Linked DNA regions of Homo sapiens. The protein of the gene in region 2 purifies or fractionates together with the protein of the main gene of each other region. This does not show direct contact. Each region holds a gene or a part of one and is shown on either strand. Other genes may lie near its edges. The genes, in order: CARD14 and MALT1.

Region 1 (7,506 bases), on a different chromosome or scaffold from region 2:
CTCGCTTTGAGGGGACCTTGTAAAGAAAATAGGCCCCAGGCCCCAGTGGTGGGAGGCAGGTTGTCTAGAACACAGCCTTGCTTCCTGGAGTAGAAAGGGCACAGTAGCAGGACATCTTGGTCTGTCCCCAGGAAACCAAGTAATTTTTTTACTTTTTTTTTTTTTGTCCTTAGCCGACAAGGATTAGATTGTGCTAGCCAAGCACCAGTAAGTGGAGGGTCAGTGGAGCTGAGGCCGGGTGGGGTTCTGGCCTTACAATGGTCCTCTGAGCTGCTCTTGGGGGAGGGAGTGCCAATTTGTTAATTTACAACTTTAAATTTCAATTATAAAATGTCATTTTCCAGTGACTAGGCTACTTTTGCCCACTGTAAAAGGCACCGTCATCCTGGTATCAAGATTCTGGAGAGGCCAGATTTGAAATCAAGTTTGTTTGGTAAGCGTGAAATCAGAGCAGTTGTTGTTGTTGTTGTTTTGTTTTGTTGAGACAGAGTCTCGCTCTGTCACCCAGGCTGGAGTGCAGTGGCGCGATCTTGGCTCACCGCAACTCCACCTCCCAGTTCAAGTAATTATCATGTCTCAGCCTCCCGAGTAGCTGGGATTACAGGCGCCCGCCGCCACACCTGGCTAGTTTTTGTATTTTTAATAGAGACAGGGTTTCTCCATGTTGGCCAGGCTGGTCTCGAACTGCTGACCTCAAGCAATCTGCCCACCCTGGCCTCCCAAAGTGCTGGGATTACAGGCGTGAGCCACCACGCCCGGCCAAAATCAGGGGAATCTCATGAGCAATCAGCGGGGCCCTTGTCCCAAAGTTGTGCGGAAACGGCCCTGTCAGCGCCTCAGCTTCCTGCAAACCGCAGAGCACACTCCAGAGGCACCTGCCGTGGGCTTTGGGGGAGCCCAGGAGCCGCTTCGAAGCCCCTGCCCAGCCCCCAGCGTGCACCTACTTGAGCTTCTTTGCCATCTTCTCGTTGACAGAGACGTGGATGACGATGGGGAAGATGTCCATCCTGTGCAGGGTGCAGACACTGTCCAGCTGGACGTCCAGGAGGGCATGGGTGTTCTTTGTGGGAGGGAGAGAAGAAGTGAGTCAAGATCACAGGCCTCAGAGGAAGCAAAGGGAGCCAACGCCCAGGTCAGAAGGGCCCTCCGGACAGGCTGAGGGCAGGGCAGGAGCTGGGCAGAGCTGAATTTTGTAGAGGAGATGAGGGAATAGAGCTTGCCACTTTCTTCTCTCTTTTTTTTATTTTTATTTTTTATTTTTTTGAGACGGAGTCTCGCTCTGTCGCCCAGGCTGGAGTGCAGTGGCGCGATCTCGGCTCACTGCAAGCTCTGCCTCCCAGGTTCATGCCATTCTCCTGTCTCAGCCTCCCGAGTAGCTGGGACTACAGGCGCCCACCACCACGCCTGGCTAATTTTTTCTGTTTTTAGTAGAGACAGGGTTTCACCGTGTTAGCCAGGATGGTCTTGATCTCCTGACCTCAGGTGATCTGCCCGCCTCGGCCTCCCAAAGTGCTGGGATTAGAGGCGTGAGCCACCGCACCCGGCCCACTTTTAATTTTTTTAGCTTTTAAATGTTTTGTAGAGACGGGTGTCTCACTGTGTTGCTCAGGCTGGTCTCAAATTCCTGGGCTCAAGCAATCTTCCCGCCTAGGCCTCCCAAAGTGTGGGGATTACAGGCGCGAGCCACTGTGCCCGGCTACTTTCTTCTCTTTTTATTTTTTAATTTTTTTTAGAGACGGGTCTCACTGTGTTGCTCAGGCTGGTCTTGAACTCCTGGGCTCAAGCGATCCTCCCACCTCGGGTTCCCAAAGTGCTGGGATGACAGGCGTGAGCCCCAGGCCCAGCTGAGTTTGCCACTTTCTAAATGAGGCTGTGTGCTATGCAGTATTAAGAGTTTCCATCCCTTTGATTTTTCACTGGGAAAATCTAGAAATTGTGAGCTCTGGGGATGAGGTGAACTTGGCATGGAGCTCCGCCAGCCCCTACAGGAGGCACGCAGATGCCAGACTCGGCTTCCCGTGCCTGTGCAGACACAAAGCTGTGGTTCACGGGGAGCTGCTTTTCACGCGTTTGCGCCTTCAAACGTGGAGAGTGTTGTTAGCTCGGATTTATTCATTCTCGAACAAATATCTATTAAACATCCCCCAAGCTGAGGAAACTGAGATTCAAGGAGTTGGGAGACCTCACCCACAGTCACGTGGATCCTAACTGGCTGAGATGAGTTTTGGGCTCCTGCTGGGCTGTTGGGACCCAGAGGTCGGCGACAAGGTCACCCAGGTCTCAGGTCGGTCCCTGTACCTTTATCTCATCCCCCTCCTCTGCATTCCTGAAACCCTTCCCAGGACAGCTCCCCTGCCCACCCCGCCCTTGACCTCACCTTTTCCATGAGGGACTCCACAGCATGGCGGGTCACCCAGCAGCGGCCCCCGGACACCTCTCCCTCCTGGATGATGTCCCCTCTCTGGCTCCAGGCCTCATACTCCTCCTGGCTCAAGTACTCTACAGGTGACATTGGACGGGGCCATCATAGACCAGCTGTGTGGGGGTCTGGGGGAGTCCCATGGTAAACACCCCTGTCCCCGTGAACCCTGCCAGCACTGGGAGAAGCTCTTCTTAGGATGTCCACTTTACAAACCTGACCCTGCACACCCCGCTCTGTGCCCTGCACCTCCATCCTGAACTATCTGGACACAGCAGGTGAGTGTGGGAATGTGCGTGGTGGGGGAGGGAAGGAGGAGGGAGGAAGGGGAGGAAGGAGGGAGGAAGGGGAGGAGGGAGGGAGGGAAGGTGGAAGGGGTAGAGGGATTCCCAGGCAACAGCATACCTGCCAGGCACTTCTTAAACCCTTGGAGGAGGCACAGTTTCTCGCTCAGGATCTTCCCAACCGCCCTGGGCACGAGGAGCACAGGCCGGGGCCGGGCGGGTCGATGGGGCCGCACCAGGGTATAGGGCACCAGGGTGAGGCAGCTCTCGGCCCAGAAGCACGTGCTGGAGCCTGTGGAGGAGAGGATCCTGAGGGTGGGTGAGGCTGCGGCAGCCCCCAGCCAGCCTACCCTGCCCCGGGAGGGACTGGGTCTGCTTTGCTCACTGCAGCAGCCCCAGCACCTAGAATTCCAGGGGCACAGGCTCAGCGGTCACAGGACTCACTCCCAGTTCCATAGCCCCTGGCTGAGCGGCTCCTTTGCACGGGGGTTACACAGCTCTGTGGCTCTCCAGGGACTGCTTTGCAGCCTGCAACTTAATCCTGTTTCCTATAGGCCCAAGGGAGGATGGCGGAAGCCAGGGTTTTCTTCCTTCCAAAGGATCTGGGAGAGTGGCACCCTTCTCCTCAGCCATCCTCCAGGGCACAGGGTCCTAGCCCTCCCTCTGTCCTGTACTCCTCTCCTGAAATTTTTTTTTTTTCCTGAGACAGAGTTTTGCTCTTATTGCCCAGGCTGGAGTGCAATGGCACCATCTCGGCTCACTGCCACCTCTGCCTCCCGGGTTCAGGCGATTCTCCTGCCTCAGCCTCCCGAGTATCTGGGATTACAGGTGTGCGCCACCACACCCAGCCCCATGATTCTTGAAGACCAGATCCTGGCCTAAATGAGTGGCATCCCCCTGCCCCAGCTGACCAACTAGCAGCAGCTCCCAAAGCCCCTCACCCACTTGGAGCCAGTGGCCCCTGTGCCAGCTCACCAGGCCTCACCCTCCATCCTGCTGGGGTCCAACTGGCCCCTGTCAAAGGACAAACGCAGAGGGCTGGCCTTGGCTTTGTCCATACTGACGATGCGGACCAGCTTCTGTGGTCCCCCAGAAGATGGCTAAAGGAGGGACAGAGAAAGGATGAGGAGGAGCTGTTGAAGCCATCAACAGGAATGGGAATTCAGGGGAGATGATTGGCACTAGGGCGACCTGGGAGTGATGCAGAGGCGCAGATGCTCTGAGAACAGCCTGAGGTGTGTCTGCACTTGTGCAAGAGCCTGCAGGCTGGGCAGGGGCTGCAGACCCTGCCCTGGTTTGAAGGGGTGCAGAGGAGAGACAGGTGGGGTTACCCTCCAATCAGCAGCCCACTCTCCACACAGTGCCTCCTGCCACCCTGCCAGCACCGAGCCCCTCTTCCAGCCCACCCCAGTGGGGTCCAGGCCCCTCCCTGGAGCCTCACCTTGCGGGTCACGGTGCACTGCTGAGTCATGTCCTGGATGAGGGCTATGAGCTGCTGCTGAGCCCTGCAGAGACCAGCAGAGGCCCTGACCCAGCTGCCTCCTGCCAGGTGAGCAGGGCAGGGGAGAGCCGAGCAGGGGAGAGTGGGGGAGATGGCCGGGTGGGAGAGAAGGGCCTCCACCTAGAGCTCCACACATCCCTTTGCTGCAGGCTGGAGCGCTCCATCCTGGCGGCCATGCCAGTCTCCAGAGCTTTCAAAAGACTCCAGGGCCTCGGCCCACCCCTGGAGATGCTGATTTACTTGTCCTGGGGCGGGACCCAGGGGGTGCTGTTGAGCAGCCAGCGTACAGGGCCCCACTCCAGGACCTCAATATTCATGGTGGGTCCCTGGCCTGCAGCCTGGAGTCACCGAGAGAGCTGTTAGAAATGCAGAGTGCCAGGCCTCTCCCTGGACCTGCTGGCTCCGATCCCCAGGGGACTTGAGTTTGCAATGAGTGATGGGGGTGCTGAGCTCAACACTCCTGCTTTCTAGCACTGTGCGTTCCGTGCACTTGAAACTTGGAGCCTCCCATAGGCTGATCTAGAACAATGGTTTCCTTTTCTTTTTTTTTTTTTTTGAGACAGAGTCTCACTCTGTCGCCCAGGCTGGAGTGCAATGGCTCAATCCCGGCTCACTGCAACCTCTGCCTCCGGGGTTCAAGTGATTCTCCTGCCTCAGCCTCCTGAGTAGCTGGGATTACAGGCACCTGCCACCACGCCCAGCTAAGTTTTTTGTATTTTTAATAGAGACAGGGTTTCACCAGGTTACCCAGGCTGGTCTCGAACTCCTGACCTCAGATGATCCACCCGCCTCGGCCTCCCAAAGTGTTTGGATTACAGGTGTGAGCCACCATGCTCGGCCTAGAGCAGTGGTTTTCAATGGAGCAAGGCAGGGGGCAATGTCACTCCCCAGGGAGGGTGACCAGCTGTCCCTGCTTGCCCAGGACCGAGGGGCTTCCCTGCAAGTGGGGCTTTCAGTGCTAAGACCAAGACAGTCCTAGGAGAACCAGGGGACCCTTGGCAACCTATAGAGACATTTCTGGTTGTCACAGCTGGGGCATGGGAGTAGTCCCGGCATCCTGGGTAGGGCGGCCAGGGATGCTGCTCTATATCCTGCAGTGCCCAGGACGGCCCCACCACAGACGGGGATCCAGCCCCAAACGTCCATGGTACCAAAGCTAAGAAACCCAGAGCTAAGAAACCCAGATCTAGAATGTTCTAGAATGAACATTTCATTTGCAATATATAAAGCATCCATCACAAAGAAACAACATCTTCAGCAGTGATCTTGGCAGGCTTCCCTCCTTAGGGGGGTCTCACCACGCCCACCCTCTATTGCTGGGCAGGAGGAGGAAGCCGAGGCAGGCTGGGTGCCATTTCCCTGTGGGCCTCTCTGGGGACGCACCGAGCTCGAGGCAGCTGCTCACCTGGAGTAGTTGGGGATGGTGCCGTGCGCGGCAGTATCCTTCATGGTGTAAGAGTTCACGCGGTGGGCATGCCAGCAGCCGCAGCCCTGGAACATGGTGTCGGTGACGTGCAGGACCTCGTTGCAATGCACCTGCAGCTCCCCTTTGGCCCTGCCCTCCATGGCCAGGTTGACCCGGATGTAGAATGAGTCCCCCGAGGTCGCCACTTTGGCCTCCAGGTCCTGGAGTAGCCTCTTATAACCTGATAAAAGGGGACATGAGCCACAGATGAGCCACAGATACGAGCCTCTGCGAGGAAGGTTGCAGAAAATTAAAGTAGGAGAGAAGGAAGGACCCTCCCAGTCTCAGAAGCTGCTCTGGCACTGGAGTCAGTGGGTGGGAGGTTTCCAGCTGGCTTGGGGGCCTCCTGGGGACCTGGGGCACAGCCTGGCTGATCCTCTCTTGGCTCTGGGGGTCCCTGGCTGCTGGGCGTGCAGAAGAACCACCAGGGACTTAAGGGTCATGGAGTCTGGCCAGGCAGCTGTGCACACGAGAGGAGTGGTATGTGTACCGTCCGTGTTGACCTTCACAGACAGGCAGCAGAAGCCGTCCACCCTCCTGAGAAGCCCCACGGCCTCCTCCAGGGTCGTGTCCTCCAGGACTGCCTTGAACAAGGGCTCTGAGGCTTCGTAATCAACCTGAGGGCAAGTCGAGAAGGTCAGTCTCTTTCCCCCGGGACTCTGAATCCAGCCAGAAGACAGAAGGCGCTGAGGGCACTGAGGCGAGGCGCGGGCCAGCCCTGCCGTAGGACCACTGCCTGCACGCCTTGGTCAAAACAAAGCCACACACCAGAGCCTCTGTGGGGCCTTCACACCTCTAGTGATGCGTGCTACACATAGTGCTGGCCAGAGAGTCAACTGCCAACCCTTCCCCAGTCGAGATCGGGGGTTCTTTGTGATAAGCACTTTCCTGTCTTGAAAAAGAAAAGAAAAGAAAAGAAAGAACCTCGGTTCTAGAACATTCAAGAGCATTCTAGATAGAGGTTTCTTAGCCTTGGGATCATTCTGTGCTGCTGCGGGCTATACCGGGCCCTACAGGATGCTGAGTGGCATCCCTGGCCTTCACCTACCCGATGCCCTGGCTCTCCACCCACAGCCTTCCCCACTGTGAAGGCCCACCCCCCAGGGCTTCCACCATCCACTTCATTTCTTCTCAATATTGTTCTAAGCTTAGGAGAGTAGATATTTTTACAATAAAAATTAAGATGTGTTTTAACACCATTAGAATCTAATTGGCCCCCTTAGGATATCGGGACTATCTCCCTGAACATCGTCAAGGGGCTCTGTTGCTTGAACTACCTCAGAGCTGATAATTGGGAACCTTAAGAGCAGGGTTCCCCAACCCCTGGGCCACATACTGGTACTGGTCCATGGTCCATCAGGACCCGGGTCACACAGCAGGAGGGGCGTGGTGGGCAAGTGAGCATTACGGCCTCAGCTCCACCTCCTGTCAGCTCAGCACAGCAGTAGATTCTCAGAGGAGCATGAGCCCTATCGTGAACTGTGCAAGTGAGGGATCTAGGTTTCACGCTCCTTATGAGAATCTAATTCCTGATGATCTGTTACCGTCTCCCATCACCCCCAGATGGGACCGTCTAGTTGCAGGAAAACAAGCTCAGGGCTCCCACTGATTCTGAATTATGGTTCAGTGTATGATTCTTTCATTACATATTACAGTGTAATAATAATAGAAATAAAGTGTACAATCAATGTAACGTGCTTGAATCATCCCAAAACCATCCCCCACAACCCGGTCTGTGGAAAAGTTGTCTTCCATGAAGCCGGTCTCTGGTGCCAAAAAGGTTGGGGACTGCTGCTTAAGAGGACAACTAGAAATGTAAAGAAGGGCTGGGCATGGT
Region 2 (7,506 bases):
TCTACCAAAAATACAAAAATTAGCCGGACGTGGTGGTGTGTGCCTTTAGTCCCAGCTACTTGGGAGGCTGCGGCAAGAGGATCACTTGAACCTGGGAGGTGGACGTTGCAGTAAGCCAAGATCATGCCACTGCACTCTAGCCTGCGCGACAGAGACTCTGTAGTCTCACACAAAGAAACCAAAAAATTAAAAAAAGAAATTGGTAACATGTTTATTTTCCCCTTCAACTGCTTGGCTTATAATCTGTGAATACTTTTCTCCCTCTGGAATTTTCTTTTTTTTTTTTTTTGAGATGGGGCTTGCTCTGTCACACATGCTGGAGAGCAGTGGTGTGGTCATACTTACTACAGTCTCAAACTGCCAGGCTCGAGCAATCCTCCCACCTAAGTCTCGCGAGTAGCTGGCACTGCAGGTGCACACCATAATGCCTGGCTAATTTTTTAAATTTTTATAGAGATGGGGGGTCTGACAATGTTGCCTAGGTTGGTCTCAAACTTCTGTGTTCAAGTGATTCTCCTGCCTCAGCCTCCCCAAATGCTGGGATTACAGGCATGAGCCACTGTACCTGGCCCCAAATAATTTTTTTTTTAAATTGAGATGGGGTCTTGCTGTGTTGCCCAGACTGGTCTTGAATTCCTGGGCTCAAGCAATCCTCCTACCTCAGCCTCCCAAAGTGCTGGGATTACAGGTGTGAGCCACCATGCCCAGCCATGGAATGAGTTTCAATTAAGTAATCTGGAAGATCCAAAGGGAGAAACAGCAAAGTTTTGTTTCAAAATTGGATGACTTGTGAAAAATTTCATACAACTACTTTTGCTCTTTACTACTAAGACAGGGGTCAGACACAAAGCATCCAAAACTCAAAATAAGGGCTAGATTTAACTGTATTATTTATCATGATACTATTAGGCCTTTACTTATTTTGTACAATGAGTGGGCCGTTACCCACGAAGGGCACAATGTGCACGGCACTGAGCTGAGTGTGCTCCATGTACACTACAGGGTCTTCCTGCCTGGGCAATTCTGGTTAAGCAGACATGGTAGGACTGAAAAAGATCAGCGAAAAGCAAAACTGTCTAAGATGTTTATAAGAAGTTCAAATATCCTCACAGCACATATCGGGATGCCATTCATTGCTATGACAATTTGGTAAATATCATATGTGAGTGAGCATGGTGCTTTTTATTAAGTTTTAAAATAGTTAAAATGGACTTAAAAACGAAATTGAAATAAAACACTGTAGAGTTTCTGGAGCACCTTACTGGATCTCAGTTTGAATATAACTGACATAATCCAAAGGTTTTCTTTCTTTCTTTTTTTTTTTTTAAAGCAGCAGAGCCTTTCCTTCAAATGTAAGCTTCAGAAGAAGCCTAATGTAGAAAACAAATAAAAGTGGAACTTCTCTGGATGAAGCGGGAGGGTGGCAGGAAGTCCAAAGCCCTGGCTGGTTATGTTAAATGGAAAAGTGGCTAAGTCAAGTGATCTAAAATAGCTACACAGATAAAAACATGAAAATAAATATGGCTGACAGTTGGTCAAACACCTTATACCCAAACTGCCATCACTGGAACATCCATGAAACTCCATTTTCTAGTGGTGCTAGTTTGTAAAATAATTTCTTCTTTTTTATTTTTATTTTTTATTTTGAAGACAGGGTCTCGCTATGTTGCCTAGGCTGGTCTTGAACTCTTGGCCTTAAGTGATCCTCCTGCCTCAGCTTCCCAAAGTGCTGGGATTACAGGCTTGAGCCACCATACCTGGCCAAGTTACCTTCTTTTTGCTATGGCTTATAAAATGTTTTTTCAAAAAACACAGTGCAATCTACTGAAATAATAGGTACTTGTTCAGCATCTGACATATGCACAGCATTATACCAGCAGGCAGGGAGAACAGATAGAAATGGAAGATGTGGCATTAGACCCCCTAGGATCACATCCTTAAATCAGGATTTAAAAACTACTAAGTTCATCAGGGAAAAAAATGAACTCAGCTTTTCCCAGCAGTGTCTAAAAATTTCTGTAAAGTTTTCTCTCTCCCATCCTGGGAGAGACTGCTCACTGGACAATTCCCCACCACCCCTCCATGCCACCCACCCACCCTCAAATAGGGAGATTTGCCAGTACCAAGGCACTGGGCATAGAAGCAAAGTAGAGCTCTGAGAATTCAACTTTATTAATGACTGTGCCGAGGCTTAGCCTTGTAGTCTGAGTAATGCTGCACAGATGGTGGAGAGCTAGGTCAAAAGGGAAGGAAAGATGACATTAAATAGCAGAAGTGTTGCTGAACGTTATATTAATATAAAAATTGTTTTATAAAGTAGGTACTAATTCCAAACCCACATAATAAGAATAAAACAATCACCAGAGAGGGAACCCTGAATAGGTGTGTCTCCCCTGCTCTCCTTTTTCTGAGTACTTTTCTCTTTATTTTTTATTTTACCTTCTGCAACTTCATCCAGTAACACAGTGATTTTCTTATCTTCTAATAATCTGTCTTTTAAAAATTTCATAAAGATTCCATTTGCCAATCCAGAATGCTGGATTTCAAAAGCTTCTGCTCCTTGACACCTTAAAAATAGAAAAAGAAGTTAAGCCAGGCACAGAAAGGCAAATACTGTATGTTCTCACTTATATGTGGATGCTAATAAAAATGAACTCAGAGAAGCACCCAGCAGAATGGTGGTTACCAGAGGCTGGGGGGGGGTGGGGACAGCGTGGGGACTGTTAGTCACAGGGTACAATGTTTCAGTTAGGAAAAAAGATAAGTATTTGAGGTGATATGTGAATTATCTTGATTCAATCATTCCACATTGAATACGTACATCATAGCATATCTTTGTATCCCATAAATACATACAATTATAACTTGTCAATATCCAATAAAAATAATTTTTTAAAAAGAAAATGTTAGAAAAGCAAACACTTGCCACATGGGACTTCTGTATACACCAATAAGCTTCATTTTCTCTTCTGCCTCTCACATGACATTGATAATTAAAGAGTTAATCTTTAAGCAGGAATTACATGCCCAATTTGGGCTTAATAATTAAGATACCATGATATGGAATGCTAAAGTCGATCATTTAAAATTTTCTACGCAGAATATCAAGGAGGTAAATTTATGCCTACATGTCTATAGGTATTTTCTAGGCCTCTAATCTATAATCAAAAAACCCTCAGGGGCCAGGCACAGTGGCACATGCCTGTAATCCCAGCGACTCAGAAGGCTGAGGCAGGAGGATCGCTTGAGCCCAGGAGCAGTGAGCTATGATGGCGCCTCTGCACTCCAGCCTGGGTGACAGAGTTAAGACCCCTGCTCCTAAAAAGCAAAAACAAAAAGACATCAAACAATAAAGGAAACTTCAACGTAAACATCAAATGTTCTTACGTGGCATATCCAAACACAATATTGGCGGTGACTTTTAGTGCATCCAAGATTGGAATGGTATCATCGTAGTCATTTCTATTTAAGGGAGGCGGAGGAGGGCAGATAGAAATATGAAAAGTTAAAGAGCATTCTTAAAAGGGTATAAATAATGAGAAAATACAACAGTTTTTTAGAATACATAATTTAAAATTATAGATTCAAAATTTTTCATCTAGGTAGCTACATATCTACCCAAAATAACCCACTAACTCCTTGTTAGCTTTAAAACTAGAGTTGCATTTGAACTCTGGCATTGGATTTTGATTGGTAAATGCTGAGCAAGCAAAAAAATAGTAAATCTAGAGGAACAGTCATTGGTTCTACTCCTTAGAAAGGCAATGGCAGACAAATGGGATCCAAACCTCCAAACATCTGCTTCGGCTACTCATTCCATGTCTGGAAGACCAGGACTGACTAGTGAGCAGAGATCCCAACTCCATGGGTGTTGGTTTTGTTAATTCCTGAGGGAATAACTATAGTGATTATTAAAGTCATCTAAAGGCATTCTGGAGAGTTGAATCCCCTGTAGTGTGAGTAAATGCCCATGCCCTTTAGTTCTTCATTTGTGTTCTATAGCAAATATGAAGAGTTAAAATAATTAGATATACATGGAGTAAATGTATTTTCCTCTAGTTTTGTTCTTCCAGTTTCAATGTATAAACTAAAATTCACAAACGCAAATGGCTTTTAGCATTTCACAGGTTTCTCTAGTTTGTCATGGTCGATATTTAACTCCAACAATTCTTTAATAAAGATTAGAAAACTTACCTTTTCCTACACATATCCAATAAGAACACATTAAGTCCAGTTTCTTTTTCTTGCATCAATTTCAGTATATTTTGTACACACAGACAATTTTCAGACCTATATGGATTTGGAGCATCAACGGGGACCATGAAGCTGTTCCCAAAATTTTCATAACCATGTCCTGCATAATATAATAACCCTGAAAAGAGGAAAAATAAGAGAGAGATAGATGTCAATTCTAAATGCACTCTGAACATACAGACTGCATAACTTTTTGTAGAAAAACCTTGACTTTAATTTTCTTCAGGTTGATGTGAGCATATGTAAGAAATACCCAATTATAAATATAGACAATGTTATTTTGCATTTAAAATTATTGGCAACAGGCCAGGCATGACGGCTCACACCTATAATCCCAGCACTTTGGGAGGCCGAGGCAGGCAGATCACTTGAGGTCAGGGGTTCGAAACCAGCCTGGCCAACGTGGTGAAACCCCATCTCTCCTAAAAATACAAAAATTGGCTGGGCGTGGTGGTGGGCACCTGTAATCCCAGCTACTTGGGAGACTGAGGCAGGAGAATCACTTGAACCTTGGAGGTGGAGATTGCTGTAAGCTGAGATCATGCCACTGTACTCCACCCTGGGCGACAGAGCAAAACTCTGTCTCAAAATAAATAAATAAATAAATAAATTACCAACAGTCTGCACTTAAAATTTGCATTTCAAGACAATATCAAAATGCTGTCTGAAGTATATCCTAATTTATAAAATATATTTGTAACCAATAGTATAATATAAAATACAATTTTATGTTATGATATATAAAAAAGAATGCAGCTAGGATTTCTCTCCTGACTCATTTGTCTCCTCCATGAAGCTAGGAGTTCTGTTAGGGCAGAGATAGTCTTACATTTATTTATTTGTGTGTTCCTGGCATAGAGAGCAGGAGCTTAGTAAGTATTTAACGGATGAACAAACACAATTCAGATGAATAGCAACTGCAATATGAAGTCAAGAAACTGCAGGTATTACCATAAACAGTTAAGGGTTATTAAAATATATAGTTTTATAATCAGAGATGGGAAATCTGACTTCGCAGATTGCTATTTTTTCTTTTTGCTATGAGATATAAATATCAATCTTCCATCTAGAGTCTTTTGACTCAATAATCTAAAATTTGGGATAGTTTTAGGACTCAACAGATGAATCATATTTCCTTACTGAGAAGTGATACTATAAAAACTAACCCAAACAACTCAATGTTTTCTTGAAATTTGTTTTGGCTGTAAAAAACAACAAAAATATCAGTCTGAACTTCTTCATAAAAGTACTGGACAAAACACTTTTGAAGATATCCTCCCCTCTGCTTGCAATATCTGGAGCCCACTGATTTTGCTCTCTCAATATTCTGGATTTAATGATTTCTTTACAGGGTATTTTAAAGCAAATAGTAAAAGCCATTTAGACAGGGAACCAAAAGTAGCTAATCCATTGTAATTATGGCCCCGACTCCTAGCAGAGAATGCGGCTTTGAGAATTAAAGACAATTTGCTTCATGTGGTCCTACAGGACAAAATCCAGGTCGTCTGCTTTTTCTGAATTTCGATTAAAATGAGAAAAATGGTTCTTTCAAATACGTTTCAGCTAAAATGAGAAAATGGATATACCCATTTTCAAGTGTGGGTTTATATTACAGCTCATGTGTGCACTGGAAGTTATCATGTAGGCACTGAGAGAAACAAAAAAGAAGGACAAAGTTCCTGACCTCTAAGCAGGAGATCAGGAGATTCATGTATCTCCATACATGAATTCACACGATTCACACGTTTATGTTATCAAGCAACAATGAAAGTCATCACATAATTAAATGCCATAAATCATGTTAGTGGGACAACCACCATGTACGTATGAAATGAGTAAAGTAGAGAGGAATATCAGTATGAAGTGAAACAACAGGGGATGGTCTTAAGAGAGGGAATGGCTAGAAATTTGCAAAGGCAGAGAGAGAGCGAGGTAGATTATGGGCAGGAGAACAGAAATAAACACGGATTGGACCTGGAATGAAAGCTAACAGAAAAGAGACTAGCCTAGCAAAAAACTAAATTACTGTTGTGAATGAAAATAAGACTGCACACACAGGGAATTTTAAAAAGGAGTGCACAGATAGGGTTTTAAAAATAATGACCAAAAGAATGGATTTAATTCAATAAACCACGAAGATCAGGTAAAGTGAAAAGACAACCCACACAATGGGAGAAAATATTTGCAAATCATTTATCTGATAAGGACAGCTTGTATCCAGAATAAAGAACTCTTCCACTCATCAATAAAAAGACTAATGACGGCCAGGCGCGGAGGCTCAAGCCTGTAATCCCAGCACTTTGGGAGGCCAAGGTGGGTGGATCACCTGAGGTCAGGAGTTCAAGACCAGCCTGGCCAACATGGTGAAACCCCGTTTCTACTAAAAATACAAAAATCCAGCTAAGTGTGGTGGTGGGAGCCTGTAATCCCAGCTACTTGGGAGGCTAAGGCAGGAGAATCGCTTGAACCTGGGAGGCAGAGGTTGCAGTAAGCTGAGATCGTGCCACTAGCACTCCAGCCTGGGCAACAGGGCAAGACTCCATCTCAAAAAAAAAAGACTAATGACTTGATTTAAAAATAGGCAAAGGATCTGATGCTTCTCCAAAGAGGATATATGAGTGGCAAATATGCACATGAAAAGATGCTCAACATCATTAGCCACTAGTTCCAAGTCATTTTAAACTCACCAGGATGGCTACAATAAAAAAGACAGACAAGAACAAGTGTTGGCAAGGATGCAGAGAAATTGGAACCCTCATTCATTTCTGGTGGCACAAATGTAAAATGGTGTAAGAACTTTGGAAAGAGTTTTGCAGTTCCTCAAAAAGTTAAATATAGATTACCATATGACCCAGGAATTTCACTTCCAGGTACATACCGAAGAGAAATGGAAACTACGTCCACACAAGAATGTGTACACAAATGCTCACAGCAGTATTATTAATCATGTCCAAAAATGTCCATGAGATGATAAATGGATAAACAAAATATAATCATATAATAGAATATTATCTAGCCCTAAAATAATGAAGTTCTAGTACATGCTACAATATGAATGAACTTTGAAAACATGTGAAGTGAAAGAAGGCAGACATAAAAGGCCACATATTGGGTGATTCCATTTATATGAAATGTCCAGAATAGGCAAATCCACAGAAACAGAAAATAGATTGGTGGTTGCCAGGGGCTGGGGTAAGGAGGAATGGGAGTGACTGTTAATGGATATGGGGTTTCTTTTTGGGGTGATGGAAA

The links.
Region 1: the proteins of MALT1 (region 2) and CARD14 purify together in Homo sapiens (affinity purification with western blotting; 2 studies listed by BioGRID and IntAct, with this or other methods). This does not show direct contact.

The regions. Positions count from the first base shown.
Region 1 is NC_000017.11:80,200,524-80,208,029, reverse strand, and holds part of CARD14 (caspase recruitment domain-containing protein 14), read right to left. Parts: intron 7,358-7,506; exon of another isoform or gene 6,287-7,357; coding exon 6,160-6,286; exon of another isoform or gene 5,851-6,159; coding exon 5,610-5,850; coding exon of another isoform or gene 5,606-5,609; exon of another isoform or gene 4,354-5,605; intron 4,253-4,353; exon of another isoform or gene 4,209-4,252; coding exon 4,145-4,208; exon of another isoform or gene 3,804-4,144; coding exon 3,689-3,803; coding exon of another isoform or gene 3,679-3,688; exon of another isoform or gene 3,434-3,678; intron 2,996-3,433; coding exon 2,825-2,995; intron 2,698-2,824; exon of another isoform or gene 2,500-2,697; coding exon 2,378-2,499; exon of another isoform or gene 1,061-2,377; coding exon 945-1,060; coding exon of another isoform or gene 941-944; exon of another isoform or gene 1-940. UniProt on the Homo sapiens protein: Acts as a scaffolding protein that can activate the inflammatory transcription factor NF-kappa-B and p38/JNK MAP kinase signaling pathways.
Region 2 is NC_000018.10:58,730,263-58,737,768, reverse strand, and holds part of MALT1 (mucosa-associated lymphoid tissue lymphoma translocation protein 1), read right to left. Parts: intron 4,373-7,506; coding exon 4,195-4,372; intron 3,888-4,194; exon of another isoform or gene 3,789-3,887; intron 3,463-3,788; coding exon 3,388-3,462; exon of another isoform or gene 3,382-3,387; intron 2,568-3,381; coding exon 2,440-2,567; intron 1-2,439. UniProt on the Homo sapiens protein: Protease that enhances BCL10-induced activation: acts via formation of CBM complexes that channel adaptive and innate immune signaling downstream of CARD domain-containing proteins (CARD9, CARD11 and CARD14) to activate NF-kappa-B and MAP kinase p38 pathways which stimulate expression of genes encoding pro-inflammatory cytokines and chemokines.